Homo sapiens: one gene and its partners. The protein of the gene in region 2 purifies or fractionates together with the protein of the main gene of each other region. This does not show direct contact. Each region holds a gene or a part of one and is shown on either strand. Other genes may lie near its edges.

The links.
Region 1: the proteins of DDX6 (region 2) and G3BP2 purify together in Homo sapiens (affinity purification with mass spectrometry; 3 studies listed by BioGRID and IntAct, with this or other methods). This does not show direct contact.
Region 3: the proteins of DDX6 (region 2) and LSM12 purify together in Homo sapiens (affinity purification with mass spectrometry; 5 studies listed by BioGRID and IntAct, with this or other methods). This does not show direct contact.
Region 4: the proteins of DDX6 (region 2) and EDC4 purify together in Homo sapiens (affinity purification with mass spectrometry; 6 studies listed by BioGRID and IntAct, with this or other methods). This does not show direct contact.

The regions. Positions count from the first base shown.
Region 1 is NC_000004.12:75,652,087-75,656,411, reverse strand, and holds part of G3BP2 (ras GTPase-activating protein-binding protein 2), read left to right. Parts: intron 1-541; coding exon 542-644; intron 645-1,165; coding exon 1,166-1,346; intron 1,347-2,330; coding exon 2,331-2,429; intron 2,430-4,325.
Region 2 is NC_000011.10:118,752,465-118,757,616, reverse strand, and holds part of DDX6 (probable ATP-dependent RNA helicase DDX6), read left to right. Parts: intron 1-329; coding exon 330-446; intron 447-1,293; coding exon 1,294-1,357; intron 1,358-2,113; coding exon 2,114-2,215; intron 2,216-2,729; coding exon 2,730-2,905; 3' UTR 2,906-2,912; intron 2,913-5,152.
Region 3 is NC_000017.11:44,059,347-44,063,671, reverse strand, and holds part of LSM12 (protein LSM12), read left to right. Parts: intron 1-4,325. UniProt on the Homo sapiens protein: Nicotinic acid adenine dinucleotide phosphate (NAADP) binding protein. Confers NAADP sensitivity to the two pore channel complex (TPCs) by acting as TPC accessory protein necessary for NAADP-evoked Ca(2+) release.
Region 4 is NC_000016.10:67,871,572-67,876,676, reverse strand, and holds the start of EDC4 (enhancer of mRNA-decapping protein 4), read right to left. Parts: upstream 3,626-5,105; 5' UTR 3,416-3,625; coding exon 3,334-3,415; intron 733-3,333; coding exon 576-732; intron 190-575; coding exon 78-189; intron 1-77. UniProt on the Homo sapiens protein: In the process of mRNA degradation, seems to play a role in mRNA decapping. Component of a complex containing DCP2 and DCP1A which functions in decapping of ARE-containing mRNAs. Promotes complex formation between DCP1A and DCP2.

The sequences.
Region 1 (4,325 bases), on a different chromosome or scaffold from region 2:
AGATTTGTTTTTTTCTAATAGAGTACAATAAATATTAAACTTCATCCTTGCTCTCCAGTTTTTGAGAGAACAGGGGATATTGTAGTTGAATGCCTTTGTTATTAAAAAAAAAAAAATTGGAGCCGAGCGCGGTGGCTCATGCCCGGAATCCCAGTGTTTTGGGAGGCCAGGGCGGGTGGATCACTTGAGGCCAGGAGTTCGGGACCAGCCTGGCCAATGCAGTGAAAACCCCATCTCTACTTAAAAAAAAAAAATTAGCTGGGCATGATGGTGCATACCTATAACCCCAGCTACTCAAGAGGCTGAGGCAGGAGAATCGTTTGAACCCAGAAGGCGGAGGTTGCAGTGAGCCAAGATCACACCACTGCACTCCAGCCTGGGCAACAGAACAAGACTCCATCTCAAAAAAAAAAAAAAAGGAAAGAAAATTGTCAAATTTTCTTTTTTGCTATCATACCACTTCCTTAAACATGTTAAAAATATGTCCGTTAGAAATTGTGAAGCCTCTTTAAAAAAGATGTGCTGTATTATGTATTTTCAGAATCAGAAGATGAAGTAGAAGAGGAACAAGAAGAAAGACAACCATCTCCTGAACCTGTGCAAGAAAATGCTAACAGTGGTTACTATGAAGCTCACCCTGTGACGTAAGCATACTATTTGCAAGGTTAAATTTGGTCTGAACTATGTCAGCAAGGTGGTTTCTGTTCCTAGAATTATTGTTGAAAGTAAATTCTTGATAAAACCACCTATTATGTCAGTATTTGAGTACCTATTGTGTATATGCAAGAAATTTGGAAAGAATGGTTTTATTTAATACAAAAATTGAACATGGCTTGCACCAAAACAGTGGTTCCTTACTGATAATGTAGAGTGTTGAAGACAACACAGAGTAAGCATTTTATTTTTATAAAAGATAAGGTTTATAGTTAGCACTAAAGTAAACATTCTTAGTAATTCAGTTTTGAAATGGTGGGATTAAAGAACTGCTACTTGAGAGTATTATTCCTTCTGTCTTATAGCTCTTTTTGGAATTTTGCTTTGAATACTTTGTAGATCTAGAACAAGTTATTGGCATATAACTAGTTACACCCATTGGATTAGAGAGAAATTGAATTTTTTCTTACTTGAACTCCTACTAAAAAGTGAACTAAATATTTTATTGTAGTAATGGCATAGAGGAGCCTTTGGAAGAATCCTCTCATGAACCTGAACCTGAGCCAGAATCTGAAACAAAGACTGAAGAGCTGAAACCACAAGTGGAGGAGAAGAACTTAGAAGAACTAGAGGAGAAATCTACTACTCCTCCTCCGGCAGAACCTGTTTCTCTGCCACAAGAACCACCAAAGGTTAGATCAAAGAACTCTTTAGACTTACAACATCACATGTTCAAATTTGGTGCTGTTAATGAAGTATGACCTTTTTCTATTATGTTAAATTGTTTAGTAAATTATTTTATGTATATGAAAGAAGCTGTGGGGTTTGTTTGTTACCTGAGAAAATGTTATTGTTTCCCTGCCCCGCAAAATACCCCTCTAAGAGTGAAACTTATAACTTAAGATGAATCCTTGTCTGTATGCATTGTTTAGTAACTTATATGAAATTATTTGGATCCATGTATAGAGCTGTCAGTTGTTCTTTCATTCTGTATTAAATTCTCTGAGCACAGATGCACCAGGAATCATGCAGTTTCCCAACTTAAACAAGTTGGTCTATAATTAAAAGAAGAGATACCTGTTGTTTGTGGTTTAAATGGGATCAGTTTCCTTTCTACACCAATTAAACTATCTTGGAAAGATGAGTGACATCCTTAGTGTATCATGTAAGCCTACCTGAAACTTCTTTTATCTTTCTTCAAAGTCAAAGGTTAAAGTATATTTGAGTGGTGATAGGAGGAGATTCTTTGTTCAATTTGTGAATGTCAGAGTTTCCAGCTAATACTCTCTTCTTTCCTATCCTTCCCTCTCCCGTTAACACCATCACACACCCTATCTTACCCCCAAAGGGGAAATAAATTGTTTCTATTAGGTTCAGGTTTTTCTAGCATGTTTGTTAGTGGTTTTGTTTGCCACTTGCTCATCTACTTAGAGTACGTAGGAACTTGCTTATGGTTTTACTTAGTAGTCAGACAAAAGTTATAAATAAGCTTGCATAATGAGATTTTGAAAGCTGGCACATAGACTGGCATGTGTGTGTGTGCCTTTCTTTTAGGAGTCTTCCAATATAGAGCAATAGTTTAGAAATGAAAAGAAAATATATATTTGGAAGTTTCCCTATAGGAATGTTGGTGGTTTTCCATGATTAGTAGTCTAGGTTTGTTGCATTTCCTGCAGGCTTTCTCCTGGGCTTCAGTGACCAGTAAAAACCTGCCTCCTAGTGGTACTGTTTCTTCCTCTGGAATTCCACCCCATGTTAAAGCACCAGTCTCACAGGTAACCAATCTGTGAACACATTGGATTGTATCCTTGTTACATTGCCAATTGCTTATTTTTAAAATACTTTTAAAAATGAGTCAATCAGAAATTATGGATTAAATATACAAAAAACTTGTATTATATGTCAGTGCACCCACTTTAAATGTCAAATCTCCATTCATCATCTACATAGGTGGTATTTGGGGTTTGGGTGTGTGAAATACAGATTAAGTTGGTTTTTACCAGTATATAATATTGTCATTTAAAAGGCTTCTTAAAATAACAAAAAGAATGTTCCTTTTTCAAAAGCTTCAAATTCTATTTAGCAAAAATATTTTAGGTAAGAAATTCGGAGAGGCACAAAGTAGTGTGGCGTAATAAAGAATCGTTTTTGTTTTTTTTTTTTTTTTTAAAGCAAAAAAAAAAAAAACCAGGAAACTTTTTAACATACGCTGCCTAAGCTCTCAGTGTGTAAGTGGTTCACACCACTTAATTGAAGCCTGTACCAACTTATGACTGTAGTGTTCACCTTAACTGATCATTCTAGTATTCTGCTTTTTGTCTGTTTGTCATCTTACCCATTTCAGAGCTTTCAAAAATGTGAAAATAAGACACTGCCTACCTAAGAAGTTTGTTAGATTTAGTTTAGAATGAACTAAATTCTAATTAAGTTTATCAGCATATAAAGGGTGTCCAATTTTTTCCCTACATTTTGCATTAAACTTCATTCCACTAGAAAATTTATGTTTGAAATGTTAGTATATAAATGTATCTTTTATATGTTCTAAGCAGTGAAATTTTGAGGTTTTAAAAGTAGTAATTTTTAGTTTTTTGGTGTTGGGACACATAATCAGCTACATAAAAGTAGAATACGCCCGTGATACTTTTTTTTTTTTTTCATTTGGGTATTCAGGCAATGCGTGGTTACCCTTATGTAAGATGGTCACCCAGAGTTCCATCTTAACAAAGGAAATTAGTTTGTGCAGTATTGTTTTGTGCTTTTCTACCCATATGAAGACCCAATAAATAACTTTTGGCCCTTCTTTTGGAATCTTCATTTCCTATCAGATTTGGATTTGGAACCTTTGGATTATTTCATTTCAGAGAGTTTAAACAGTTAAAAGTTAAAATAGCTAGTGCTTATGCCTTTGATATGCGCCAAGCATTGTGTGAAGCACTTTTTGTTCATTTTCAGTGAATCCTCACAACCACCCTGTCAGGGTGGGTACTATTGTTTCTGTTTTAGAGATCAAAAAATTGAGGTCTAGAGTAACTCACAGACATTTATGTACATAGTAGGGTTGGGCTTTGAAGTCATGCAGTGGGACATGAGTCCATATGTGGCTCATGTAAACGTTTATTTTTTTGAGACAGAGTCTCGCTCTGTCGCCCAGGCTGGAGTGCAGTGGTAGTGGCAGTGGCGTTATCTTAGCTCACTGCAACCTCCACCTCCCCAGCTCAAGTGATTCTCCTGCCTCAGCCTCCCGAATAGCTGGGATTGTAGGTGCCCGCCACCACGCCTGGCTAATTTTTGTATATTTAGTAGAGACGGGGTTTCACCATGTAGACCAGGCTGGTCTCAAACTCCTGACCCAAGTGATCCACCCGCATTGGCCTCCCAAACGGTGGGGATTACAGGCATGAGCCACTGCGCCCAGCCTCATGTAAACCTTATGCAATTCTCCAGCACCTTGCTGCAGAGTCATGTATCTTATCTGTATTTGCATCAAAGAGGACTCTTAAGACATGCCTGATTAAATCCTAGTCTCTTGCCCAGAAAAATACCTTCATATTTATCTCAAGTAGTTTGCCTTAAATATATTTTCAAAGTTAGTTGTAGGAAATGAAGTTGTATTTCCTATGCCACCCCTTTAATAAAACAAAAATTTTAAATGTTTAGAATTTAAACTTTAA
Region 2 (5,152 bases):
CTCCATTTCACAAAAAAAAAATAAAATAAAATATTTTTAAATGGAAACACATAAAACATAACTACTTTGAATCAGATAATCAATTGTATTACTCTTGTTGACAGTTATGTGGCCCTTAAGAAATATACTCTAATACGGTAAATCTTAGATATTATTATCTTCCATCTATTATTTACAATTTTTACAATTTACCATCTCTCTCATATCATGAGATTCTAAGTTTTAGACCATGTTAATGTTTCTTTTTTGCTGGTTCGTGTTTTCAAGATTTGGCAAACCAAATGAAGGTTTTTTTTATTTTTCTCATACTTATTTTTTTCTGTGCTCAGCTTCAGATAAACCAGTCGATCATTTTCTGTAACTCCTCTCAGCGAGTTGAATTGCTAGCCAAGAAGATTTCTCAACTGGGTTATTCTTGCTTCTATATTCATGCTAAAATGAGGCAGGTGAGTATAAAACTAGAACTTGCACAAATTTAATAAGAAATCTCTTTCTTTATTTTGTTTTAATGTTCTTTTAAATGTCCTGAGTTTAAGAATAAACTGTTCCTTAGTAGCCAAAGGACCTTTCATTTTGACCTCCCTCAGGTTCAATTTTCTAGCAATAAAATAGGGATAATAGTACATATTCATAACTTACAAGGTTGTTAGGAAAATTAAGATAAATGTTTAAATGAGTACTTTGGAAGCTGTCAGGCATGATACAAATGTAAAATTTTATTCTTCCCTTCCTTTCCATGTTTAATTCTCTGTTTAATACAGTAAATAGCCACATGTGGCAATTTAAATCAGTTAAAATTAAAATAAAAAGTCAGTTTCTCAATCACAGCCACATTTCAAGTGCTCAGTTAGGCACCTGTTGCTACTGGATAGTGTATTGGAATTGGAAGTACAGACACAAATATTTCCTTTATTATAGAAGTTTTACTGGACAGCACTGCTCTGGATTTTTAAATATGGCCCCTCAGCTGGCTGATTTTTCTTTTTTTCTTTACTGTTTGCCTTTAGAAAAAGATACAATATCTAAATTTCAGAATTTGATTTAGCAAAAAATAATTTAAAACTGTAACAAAAATGACTTTTTTGTTAACTACATTATGAAATTTCGTAAGTAAACAGTTTCTGTAGACGAAGATATCAAGAACTTAACTCATTTGGTTTTGAAAGCAGCTTAATATCATGGATCACTTATAAACAGATTTTGGGTAGAACTGATCGTCTGGGAGAAATAATTATGGGAAATTTGGGGCTGTATATGAGTGTTAATCAAATGGAATACATTGCTTTCTCCTAGGAACATCGAAATCGTGTATTTCATGATTTCCGAAATGGCTTATGCCGCAATCTTGTTTGCACTGGTAAGTATTTTTGTATTTCCTTTACCCAGTGTTTTTCTCCCAAGTTGTTTTTTGCTTTCTCTGTTCATATTACATAGTGCAACCTGTGACATAGTCCGACACACCCTACCACTACTTCTAGGATTTCTGAAGTTGAAAATGAACTCTTGTCAGCTCCTGATACTGGGTTCCATATCTGAAACTTTAGAAGACTTACTCTGGCACTCATACCTCATCTCTGTCTTTTTTTTGGGGGGGGGGGGGAGGGGGATGGAATCTTTGTCACCCAGGCTGGAGTGCAGTGGTGCGATCTTGGCTCTCTGAAACCTCCACCTCCTGGGTTCAAGTGATTCTCCTGCCTCAGCCTCCCAAGTAGCTGGGATTGTGGGCGCCTGCTACCGCTTAGCCCGGCTAATTTTTGTATTTTTGGTAGAGACAGGGATTTCACCATGTTGGCCAGGCTGGTCTCGAACTCCTGACCTCAGGTGATCTTCCTGCTTTGGTCTCCCAAAGTGCTGGGATTACAGGCTTGAGTGCACCCAGCCTCTTTTAGACACATTTTTTAAAACTTGCTTACAATTACTGGAAAAAAGTAACTTGGGAGCAGAAAGTTATTTATGATAATGTGATTATGAAAGGTAATGCCAGTAATGTGCAAATGCATTTGAATAACTGAATTAAATTAATAAACTTAGGTTATGCTAGAAATATGTGTTAGTATTGTACTGAGAGACATTTCTAAATTGAAAAAATGAAAATTATCTTTTTTTTTTTAAGATCTGTTTACCCGAGGTATTGATATACAAGCTGTGAATGTGGTAATAAACTTTGATTTCCCAAAGCTGGCAGAGACCTATCTCCATCGTATTGGAAGATCAGGTGAGGAAAAAAGAGGTGATATTCTTGGTAGAAGTTCTTTTTTGAGGCGTGTAATGACTAAATTTTGTTCTTTTGTGAAATAGAGTACAGTAGCTATGAGAACAGTGAATTAACAGTAATTCAGTTGTTTGGTATTTAAGACTAATTTCTAATTCTTCTGTAGCATTTATTAAGAAAAGTTAAAATAACTGCTTAATTTGAGATGAAATTAACACATGAGAACTTCACTCATTAGGTGGTATGTTCTGTGACTGTTGTTTAATGTGTATTTTATGGCAGTTTTGACTGCCATTTTGTCATTTGAGAAAGGTGAAATGAAGTACTATTTTGGGCTGCGAAACCTGAAGTTGTAGGGAAACCTGTGTTTGAAGACCATTAAGAAGTTGTTTTGCATACTAAGAATGGCACTGAACATCATTATCAATCCTGTGTGGTTTTGCCACTGCTTGACTTGCACAATTCACATTGATTTTCATATTTTATTCATTAAAATTTTTAAACGCATGTTTTTTAGGTCGCTTTGGTCATCTTGGCTTAGCCATCAACTTGATCACATATGATGATCGCTTCAACCTGAAAAGTATTGAGGAGCAGCTGGGAACAGAAATTAAACCTATTCCGAGCAACATTGATAAGAGCCTGTATGTGGCAGAATACCACAGCGAGCCTGTAGAAGATGAGAAACCTTAACAAGCATGTACGTCCCTGACAGAACAGCTAAGAGGAACCTTTAAATGAGGGAAATCAAAATCTTCTTTCCTGGGGGAAATTTGATGTCACACCATATATAATAGCAATAAAGGGTAAAATACCCACTAGCATAAATGACAGTAAATAATATCTCTTGTGGGAGGTTGTAGTCTCATTCGAGAATCTGTAAATGTTGTTCTTGAATGCAGCTTCCCGGGTAATGTGGTAGATTAGCAGTACTTAAATTCAGAGTCCTAAAATAATGAAAGCAAAAAAGAATGTTTTTCAGCAATTTGTTTTTCTTTTTGAGACAAGGTCTCACTGTCATCCAGGCTGGAGTGCAGTGGTGCAATCATAGCTCACTGCAGCCTGGTTCTCCTGGGCTCCTGAGTAGCTGGAACTGTAGGCACATGCCACCACGCCTGCCTAATGTTTTAAATTTTTGGTAGAAACAAGGTCTTGCTTTGTTGCCTAGGCTGGTCCAGAACTCCTGAACTCCAGCAGTCCTCCTGCCTTGGCTTCCCAAAGTGTTAGGATTATAGGCGCAAGCCACTGTGCCACTGTGCCTGGCCTTTTTTGACAGTTTTGTAGGGGGGATTTTTGTTGTTTTTGTTTTTTGAGAGTCTTGCTCTGTTGCCCAGGCTGGAGTACAGTGGCACAATCACGGCCCACTGCAACCTCTGCCTCCCAGGTTCAAGCGATTCTGGTGCACCTCAGCCTCCCAAGTAGCTGGAATTACAGGCATGCTCCACCATGCCCAGCTAATTTTTGTATTTTTTAGTAGAGTTGGAGTTTCACCATGTTGGCCAGGTTGGTCTTGAACTCCTGACCTCAAGTGATCTACCCGCCTCAGCCTCCTAAAGGGAGGCTGGGATTACAGGTGTGAGCCACCACACTGCCAGCAGTTTTGAATATGAAAGTATTTACATTTCTGAAAATGTAAAATGTTTTTAGCATTTACTCTTAATTTCTAGTAAGTACATTAATCACTCTGATAAAACTATCCATAATACCTTATTAGCAAATGTTTAATCAGATTATGAGGATGGCCATCTTTTTAAAATACCCACTCTGGGCCGGGTGCGGTGGCTCACACCTGTAATCCCAGTACTTTGGGAGGCCGAGGTGGGCGGATCACGAGGTCAAGAGATCGAGACCATCCTGGCCAACATGGTGAAACCCTGTCTCTACTAAAAATACAAAAATTAGCCGGGCATGGTGACACGCACCTGTAGTCCCAGCTACTCGGGAGGCTGAGGCAGGCGAATCACTTGAACCTGGGAGGTGGAGGTTACAGTGAGCTGAGACCGCACCACTGCACTCCAGCCTGGGTGACAAAGCTAGACTCCATCTCAAAAAAAAAAAAAAAAAAAAAGCCACTTGGGCTGGCTCAGTGGCTCACACCTGTAATCCCAGCACTTTGGGAGGCCGAGGTGGGTGGATTACCTGAGGTCAGGACTTCAAGACCAGCCTGGCCAACCTGGTGAGACCCCGTGTCCACTAAAGATACAGAAAATTAGCCAGGCATGGTGGCGGGCGCCTGTAATCCCAGCTAGTCAGGAGGCTGAGGCAGGAGAATCTCTTGAACCTGGGAGGCAGAGGTTGCAGTGAGCCGAGGTCATGCCATTGCACTCGAGCCTGGGCGATAAGAGTGAAACTCTGCCTCATATATAAATAACCCACTCTGATTTCCTAGGTAATAAGAGTGAAACTCCGTCAAATACATAAATAAAATACCCACTCTGATTTCCTGGACAACCTGTCTTCCCATCTTTTTTTTATTTTTATTAAGATGGGATCTCACTATGTTGCCCCGGCTGGTTTCAAACTCCTGGGTTCAAATGATCCTCCCACTTTGGCTTCCCAGAGTGCTGGGATTATAGGTGTGAGCCACCACGCCCTGCCTCTATCATCTTTTGGTGACTATTGGGCTCTAGTTAGAAATGCATGAAACAAGGCTCAGCTTTAAGCAAGGTAGGTTGTTTCAGTATTTCCTAAAGAAAATCTGATTTGACAAAGGATAGTTTCCAAGTTATAGGTGAACATCTTACCTATTTAAGTAACCTAATGTTACTTAAATTTTTTTTCTCTTTCTTTTTTAAATAGAGACGAGGATTTACCATGTTGGCCAGGCTGGTCTCAAACTCCTGACCTCAGGTGATCCGCCCACCTCAGCCTCCCAGAGTGCTGAGATTACTGGCAGGAGCCACCTCACCCAACCAATTGTTACTTAAATAATTTTTAAAT
Region 3 (4,325 bases), on a different chromosome or scaffold from region 2:
TTTTAAAAAATGTAGGTTTAGTTTTTCTCTTTATTCCTGGATGTTATCAGTAGATCTTAAGAAGTAGCTTAACTCCCAAATAAGTTGAGAGCTTGCTTCTGCCTTTATGAAAGAGGACTTTTTAAATCTTGGAGTTCATGATGAACTAATAGTGCTGCTGGGGTTTGGGTGGTGGCGTTACCTATGAATGTCTTCAAATTGTGTATATGTGGATGTGTGCATACGTGAATATATGCATTTTCTGCTTGAAGATCTAAAGTGTTTTTCAGATTCTCGGAGGGTTTCATGACTTAGAAAAGTTTGAAAGCCACTGTCTTAAAGGTTCTTTTTTGTCTTTATGTTTGAATTTTGAGTTCTAACAGTTACATGCTTAGCATATTTTAATCTTGCACATAAAAGTTGATCTCTGGGAACCCCCAAGTCACTTTTGTGTGTGTATGTGTGAGACAGGGTCTTGCTTTGTTGCCCAGGTTGAACTTGAACGCCTGGGCTCAAGTGACCCTCCTGCCTCGGCCTTCTGAGTAGCTGGGATTACATGCATGCGTCACCATGCCTGCCCAAGTCTTTCTTTTTATTGGAGCCACTGCGCCCGGCGTTTTTTTTGAGACAGAGTCTCTCTGTGTCGCCCAGGCTGGAGTGCAGTGACGCGATCTCGGCTCACTGTAACCTCCGCCTCCCAGGTTAAGTGATTCTCGTGCCTCAGCCTCTGGAGTAGTTGGGACTACAGGTGTGTGCCACGACGCCTGGCCAAATTTTTTTTTTTTTTGGAGACAGGCACACACTGTCACACCCGGCTAATTTGTTTTATTTTAGTAGAGACGGGGTTTCATTCTGTTGCCCAGGCTGGTCTTGAACTCCTGAGCTCAGGCAGTCTGCTTGCCTCGGCCTCCCAAAGTGGTAAGATTATAGGTGTGAGCCACTGCTCCTGGCTCAATTTTTGTATTATTAGTAGAGATGGGGTTTCACCATGCTGGCCAGGCTGATCTTGAACTTCTGACCTCAAGTGATCTGCCTGCCTCAGCCTCCCAAAGTGCTGGGATTACAGGTGTCAGCCACCATGCCCGGCCCTAAGTCACTTTTTTGACAATTCCGTTTATTTAGTCAAAATTGAAGTTGATCATAATAATGCCTCAAGCCCTGTCATAGCCTGTGCTGTCCCCTGTACTTGGAACATTTTTCCTTCCAGAATGACTGGAGCCTTACCACCCATCAGCACTCAGTTAAATGGCACGTCTTCCAAGAAGTCTTCTCTGATCACCCAGGCTGAAGTAATTTGCCTGCATTATTCTCTCTCATAGTACCTTGTCCTTCACAGTTAAGGTGACCATATCATTTGTAGTCCAACCTGGGACATTTTTGAGAGTAAAGGGGAATGCTTTTATTTTACACAGGGACAACAGGTATAGATTAGGTTACCCTATTCATAGCTTTTTTTTTTTTTTTTTTTTTTGAGACGGAGTCTCGCTTTGTCGCCCAGGCTGGAGTGCAGTGGCGCCATCTCAGCTCACTGCAAGCTCCGCCTCCCGGGTTCATGCCATTCTCCTGCCTCAGCCTTCCTAGTAGCTGGGACTACAGGCGCCCGACACCACGCCCGGCTAACTTTTTTGTATTTTTAGTAGAGACGGGGTTTCACTGTGTTAGCCAGGACGGTCTCGATCTCCTGACTTTGTGATCCGCCCGCCTCGGCCTCCCAAAGTGCTGGGATTACAGGCGTGAGCCACCGCTCCTGGCCATAGTTGTTTACTTGTCTAGTGTCTGTCTCACTAAACTTTATTCTGCAGGGATGGGGACCATACCTATTTTATTTACTATTGAATATACAGAGCCTTGCACAGAGTATTTAATAAATATTTGTTGGATGAATAAGATGCCTCCAATTTTAGTAGCAGGTGCTTTTCATTAAGTCTCTTGAATTAATGTGGTGGAAGTTTTTCCCTCTAGAGGAATCTTGCAATAATGTGTATTACTTTGCCTCTCTTGGGAATGTGGTGTGTTCTGTACAGTTCAGCAAAGCAAGGAAACACTTAGGCAACTAAAATAATAGAGGGTAACTGATGCTGAGGCTAGTGAATGTCGTTACCTCAGATCTGGAGTTCCTATCTTGTCAGATTCTAGGGAAATGCCACACATTTTTTAGTGATGGCCAGGGACAGATTTGGAAGGCTATTGAGTTCATATGGGTGTTGTCTTGTATGGGATGTCCCATTCTTTGAAGCTTATAGGTTTTTGAAACCTTGGCTTAGTAATATACCTTCTACCAGAGTATAGGAGCTCTTTGAGTGTCTTCTATAAGCTCATGAAATTTTAAGACTTGTTAAATAATTTATTCCTTGGTGTTTTTTTTTTTTTTTTTTGAGATGGAGTTTCGCTCTTGTTGCCCAGGCTGGAGTGCAATGGTGCAACCTCGGCTCACCGCAACCTCCGCCTCCCGGGTTCAAGTGATTCTCCTGCCTCAGCCTCCTGAGTAGCTGGGATTACAGGCATGCACAGCCACACCCAGCTAATTTTGTATTTTTAGTAGAGACGGGGTTTCTCCGTGTTGGTCAGGCTGGTCTCGAACTCCCGACCTCAGGTGATCCGCCCGCCTCAGCCTCCCAAAGTGCTGGAATTACAGGCGTGAGCCACTGTGCCCAGCATTATTCCTAGTGTATTAAAGAACCAAATAGGCTCTGAGTTATTTTTTGGTGTTTATAGGGTATGATAAGTCTGTCACTAGATCTTTAGTGAGTAGTAAAGATCTGAAAGAGAGGTGATTTTCTGAAGTTAGAAAGTTGGCTCTTGTGACCAATGAGTGCCACCATTTAGAGGGGGTGGGGTAGTGTGGATGGGACTGTTAAGCAGGAGCTGTTAAGAAGCAGTTCTCTTCTTATGTTTGACCTCAGGTAGATATAGCTCTTGGTTAGTTTGTGGATTATCTTTGCCTTTAGGGTTTTCCTTGTTTACTAGCATTGTTGTAAACTAGCTGATTACCCAGTTTTTGAGGAAAGCAGCAGGAAGTAATAGCTTGGGGAACACCAGAAATCTTTACTTTTCTTACTCTGTGGCCTGCTTGCCAAATCTTGAAAGAGGTTTGCTGGGAAGAGGAGTCAGAAACTAAAAACTAAAATTAGGTTGGAGGGTTATCTTTGGATTTCGTTTATTCATTCTTCCGTTTGCAGAGATGTTTATGAGTAAGCTATATTGGCTTTCCCTTGAAATCAACCTTTTAGGATGCTTTGCGATTCCTTTTTGGAGATTGACTTAGAATTAGAGAGAGCCTTTTGGGCTACTGCTGAAAACAGCTATTTCGGGCAGCTATTAACATGTTGCATGAATGACGTGAAAAGTTAGTCTCATTTTTAAGATCACGGACTTGAGTTTTTCTTAAGATGGAGGATCATTTAAGCATATGGAAGGGAACTAATGTACTCTGGGATGTCTGGAAGAAAACTGTTGAAGTTTCAGTTGCTTGCAGTCTGGAGAAGCACTAGCCTACTCTATTTATTTTATTTTATTTATTTATTTTTTGAGACGAAGTCTTGCTCTGTCGCCCAGGCTGGAGTGCAGTGGCGCCATCTCGGCTCACTGCAAGCTCCACCTCCCGGGTTCATGCCATTCTCCTGCCTCAGCCTCCCGAGTAGCTGGGACTACAGGCGCCCGCCACCATGTCCGGCTAATTTTTTTGTATTTTTAGTAGAGACGGGGTTTCACCATGTTGGCCAGGATGGTCTCGATCTCCTGACCTTGTGATCCGCCCGCCTCGGCCTCCCAAAGTGCTGGGATTACAGGCTTGAGCCACCACACCCGGCCTACTCTAACTTTAGTCAAAGGTATCATCACATATTGGCCCATCTTGCTGACATAGTAAGTGATCTGCTTAATTAAACCTGTTGATAAAAACCGGATATTTGTTGACTCTGACCTAGCAGGAAATGGAAGAGAAGGGCTTATACAGGAAATACTTAATAATAGCTCAACTAGGGAAGGTATAAACTAGCAACTTCTTGGAAATTGGCCTGTTTTGCTTTCGAATGATAGTTCACTTCAGGCTAAGAAGTCTTATTTCTATCTCCAGCAGTAGCATGTAAGAGGAAGCTTGAGAGAGGACAGTAGGGTTGCAGTAGGGGGAATTCTTTTTTTTGAGACAGGGTCTCAGTCCATTGCCCGGTGTGATCTCGGTTCAAGCGATTCTCCTGTCTCAGCCTCCTGAGTAGCTGGGATTACAGGCGCCTGCTGCCACCATGCCCGGCTAATTTTTCTATTTTTAGTAGAGATGGGGTTTTGCCGTGTTGACCAGGCTGGCCTTGAACTCCTGACCTCAGATAATCCACCTGCGTCGGCCTCCT
Region 4 (5,105 bases), on a different chromosome or scaffold from region 2:
ACTGGCAGCATGAGGGAGACTGGAAAGGCTGGGTGTGCCCCCGTACATTATATATGCCACAGCATCCCAGTACCTACCTTGTTGCTTCCCCGGGCCTTGCTTGAAATGCTAGAGTCACTGCTAGCCACAATCTCCACCTCCTTGGCCAAAATCCCAATGCAGGTGGAGCTATCATCTCCTGAGAGACAGCTGTGGGGAAGAGTGCAAAAACTTTGCCTCTTGTTCACCCAAAGGCTCAGCGGGCAGGGTTGGGAGGAAGCGAGGACATAGCCAGACTGGGGAAGGTATCTAGTCCAATGTCAGCTTCGCCTGGTCCACTGGCCCCAGACCCACAGCTCTGCTTGCTCATCTCCTTCCTTGGGAATGAGCCTACTTTCATTCTAAACCAGGTATCCAGGCCAAACCCCTGAGCTTGTCCTTGCCTCTCATCCTAGTGCAAGCTCAAGCTCCACCCCAGGTCATCTAGAGAGGAAGCAGCAGAGGCTGCTGGCCCCGCTCACTCCCCATCTCATGCCTTCAGCTAGCAGACACCCCAAATACACCATCACCACTATTGTCGTCTCCTAGGTACTCACATGACCTGCTTCTCTTGCAGGTTAATGGGTGGCATGGTCCGAAGACCAGTCTTGTTTGCTGAGGTACTATCACCTGAGCAGAGCGGGTCTGGGACCAGAAGTCCATTGAGGTCCCCATTGTAGGCACTGGATGGCCGTGGGCTCTCTGCACTGGGGCCTGGGGACAAAGAGGGTCATTCTGATAAGGTTGCTCGACCTGCCCACAAGCCTCTCCCCTTTCAGAGTTTCCTTCAAGAACTATGAGGTGCTCTAGGAACACTCAACTGAGCAAAGCATGTCCATGAGGAGGAGGGCCCTGTGTTCATCTCTCGTTCCATAAACACTGATGTAGGCAGGACCAAGGATGAGCATGAGGCTCTTCTACCTGGGGGAGGGGTACAAGCCATCAAGGACCCTTTGAGGGCAGTGAATACTCAGGTCTGGGTCACTACAGAAGAACTCTGTGGACTGAGTGAGGGCATAGGAGGGGTCAGGAAAGACTTTATACAGCAGTTAGTGTGACCAGAACACACAAACACAGGAAGGATGGAGTGAAAACAAAGCTACAGAGGCATCAGGTATGATGCCGTGGCACTTAGACTCTCCCTGTGGGCCATGAGAACCATAAAGAGTTTCAAAAGGGAAGGTGATGTGGTCAGTTCTGGCCAGTGGGAAGATTACTCTAAGATAGCATGCAGAATGGTTGAGAATCTGGGTGAGAGAGATCAAGGCCTAGACCAATGTAGTGTCAGAGTTTGGAGAGAAGATGGGCTCCTAAGGCATGGAAGGGCACTGGTAAGATGTGGAAGGGGCTGCCCCACACAGAAATGGCTCAGAAGAAGCTATCTTGGGCAAGTAAACACAGAAGGCAGGGACATAAAGGAGCTGGACCAAAAGGAGAGAAACTATGGGGCAGCGTGTGGAGTAAGGAAAGACAGCATTTCAGTTCTTTGCAACTGGCTGGGTTTCAAACACTCTCATAGGCTCAGACACCATTTCCAAAATCCCCAGGTGGCAAGGAGCCTAGGGCTCCACATTCAGAACATAGCAAGTTTCCAGTCACAACAGTCTTTGAATTATTTTGGCGCGATCTCGGCTCATGGCAACCTCTACCCCCTGGGTTCAAGGGATTCTCCTGCATCAGCCTCCCAAGTAGCTGGGATTACAGCTCACCTAATTTTTATATTTTTAGTAGAGATAAGGTTTCACCATGTTAAGAAACCATGTTGGCCAGGCTGGTCTCGAACTCCTGGCCTCAAGCAATCCACCCACCTCGGCCTCCCAAAGTGCTGGGATTACAGGTGTGAGCCACCGCGCCCAGTCCTCAATAGTCTGAGTTCTGACCTGGTCGTCCAGTGAGAGGAGACAAGAAAGAGCTGCTTGGCAAACAAGGGAATCAAGTGCCAATCAATAAACAAAGTAGTTATAAGGAAAGCCTCCAGGCCACTTCATTCAGATCAGAGCCACTTTAGCTGCTCAGGGACAAGCTGACAACTCTCCCTTCCATGAAGGGTACCATGAGGACAACCAAAAAGCAGGCTCAGGCTGTACATGGTTGGCCATGCCAGGCTCTACCAAATCTCTGCGGAGTCTAGTCTACAAAGCAGCTGAGCAGCAGGAGAGGTCCACGCCCAACTCATGAGTAAAGAGGGCACACACTCCAGGCCTGGGACAAAGGGCCGAGTGGTCTCAGGCAGCAGATGGATTTTCTGAAAGTAGGGGTTAGTTGAATCCACCCCTAGTGAGCACCAGTGCCTGCTTCCAGAAGCAGCCAGTCTGGGCCTCCCAGCAGGTGTAAGAACAAGATCTGAGGAAACACAATTCTCCACTGTACGCCCACACCATCATCACCGGCCACTTCAGAGATCCCTAAACCTGTCAGTAAACTAGTGCCTGCACACGTGCTATTTCCTCTTCCTAATAGGTGGCTTCTCCATAGGTGCCTTGGGTGCCTTTCCTGACACCCAAGCCCCTGTTCACATTACAAGACCTAGCCCAGTCTCCCCTCTCAGACCTGCACTCTGCACTCACCAGCCTCCACCCTTCCCACGCCCATCACAGTATCGAGACACTCCTTTCTTTCAATGACAACAGTATATTACAACCCTGTTAGCTGTGTCTTGGGGAATCTTTGGGGGCAAGACTAGTTCTGAGGTATCATTAAGAGCCAAAGCGAAATATGAATGAATGGGAACCAATTAGGGCTTGCAGATATTTGTAGCATAATTCAGTCAGGGTGGTGCGGTCTGTGATTTGCCTTCATCCCAGAAAGAACACGGAATTGAGACTGGACACCTTCCTCCTGGAAATCAGTTTCAGAACGGGAGGCCTGGAGTCTTTATTCCAGAGAGAAGGGCAAGTTATGGAGGGGGACCGGCAGCTCTTCAGCATCGCGCTTAAGCCTGGGCCCAGAATTCCATATACGGAGCCCAGACCAGGCCTCTGAACCATGGAGAAAGGGAAGAGGAGCTAGGCCAGTCCCAGGAACACTAGAGACCTCGGGGCCAGGAAACCAGAGGGCCCCAGCGGATTCAGAGAAGGCGCCTCACCTTCAACCGAGACGCTGAAGGACAAGGCAGAACAGCCTGAGGACAAGATAGGGAGGGGTCACACCCAGGGGTCTGCGCCCTTCGAGGGGCACAGTCAATCCCCGTCCACCCTTACCCGCCGGGAGGATCCAGAGCTAGTCCTAAGGGAGCTGTGGGCCCCAATGGCGGTTCAGACGCGCGCCGCCCTTTTGTCAGCTCGCCTGGGGCCCACCCCCGCAACCCCCGCTCACCGCCCGCGGGCCGGTCCAGCTTGAGGATGTCCCGCAGGTGCTGCGTGGCGTCCTCGATGTCGATGCTCGCGCAGGAGGCCATGGGCCCTGCGGCGGGCGCCCCGCCCGCACCGCGTTCGTTCCGCCGCCGCCGCGCACCACGCACCCTCGCTCACCCGCCACGGGGCGAGACAGCGGGACGCCGGTCACTACACAGTCCACCCGCAGTTCGCAAACCGCCACCCGCGCAGCGTCGCTGAGCCCCGCCAACCCCACCAACCGCCTCCACTTCCGGCACCCACGAGCCGAGGCTCCCGGAACCTGCCAGGGCCGGAGAAGAAAGGTTCCGGGCTGGGGGCGGAAGCCTAAACCCCTCCCGCAGCCAGTCCCCCTCGGCGGCCCCGCCCCTGTGTCCGCGAGGTCAGGAAAGTCCCACGGGGCTGAAGTAAGCGTCCACGCACTGGGCCACCTAAAGCCCTACTCGACTCAGAAGGCGCCAGGTCCCTGCCCACTCCCAGAGCATGGACTCCGATGGTCCTGGGACGGGGTCAACTTAGCCGCCCATGCTAAGGTCCCTCAGACCCCCAGAATATGCTGAATTGGCAGGTGCCTCAGGTTCCCTTTGGGAATGGGTCGGAATAACTCAAGGCCTGAGGCTACCCTCGAGGTCATAAAACTCAGGAATTGCAAGAGCAGGGGAGATGATCCCACTACAATGACCAGTCATTGTTCCCTACTGTCCCCCAGCATCCCCTTGTCCCACCTGGCACCCTCAGGTTGGAAGAAAGAAACCACAGTTTACAAATTCTTCTTTATTGCAGACAGTTCAGGCACAGGTACATGGAAGAAGCCGTATTGCAGATTTTACACAAGGTGGTTTGAGGCAGCAGGCACCTACCTCTTCCCCACCCCCACTTCCCCAAATACACATCAGCCTAGAGATCATTCCCACTGAAATCTCCTGAGCATGCTGTCCTCTCAAACAGCACACCATCCAGCCCTGTGCCCAATGTCACCAGGCAATCTGTGGGATCTGAGGAGGTCCTTAGCCTCCACCCGTAGTGGGACAGGGGAAGGGTATCCTTTTACATGTCAGATTTAGCTGTGGTGTCCTTACCAATCCTAAAACCCTTAACAGGGCACTGACCCAAATCTTGGGTTTGGTTCTAGCCTATGGTTGCTACATTGCCACTAGGTTTATACCATCCAGAAGTCTGTGGGACAAGGGGCTAGATTTGTACTGGGCAAGGCCTTTGTCCCCAAAATGGAGAAGCAGAAACTGCCCTAATAGCTAAGACTCCCCGGAATTGGAAGATAGCATGAAGTCTGTATGCTGAGGAAGGAAGTGGAGAGAGGCCTGGCAATGTCCTGCAGCAGTCTGAGGGGTGAGGACTCCTAAAGCATGAGTCCCTCACAGACTGCCTCCTTCCACAGCTCCTGACCTATACTCCAACACAACTGGGCCTGGCTCTGTGGGCAGTGGAGGCTGGCTCTTCGGGTTACCTGCCTTTGGGTAAAGATATCCAAAGCAGATGGGACAGGAGCTGAGCTGCCCTCTGCCTGGCTTGGTGTATGTGGGGCATCCTGGATATGATCCTGATCCTTCTGGGGATAGAGCAGGCCCCTCCCTTGATACTGCTGACAACTCAGCCCGGAGGGCCTGAACGTGATGAGCCATTTTGCCAAGGCCTCTCCAGCTTCAACAGGATTCAGGATCATCTCTCCTGCTACTAGGGCCCTGAACCTACCCAGAGCAGAAGTCACAGGAGGTATCAGAACTGACTGCACAGGCT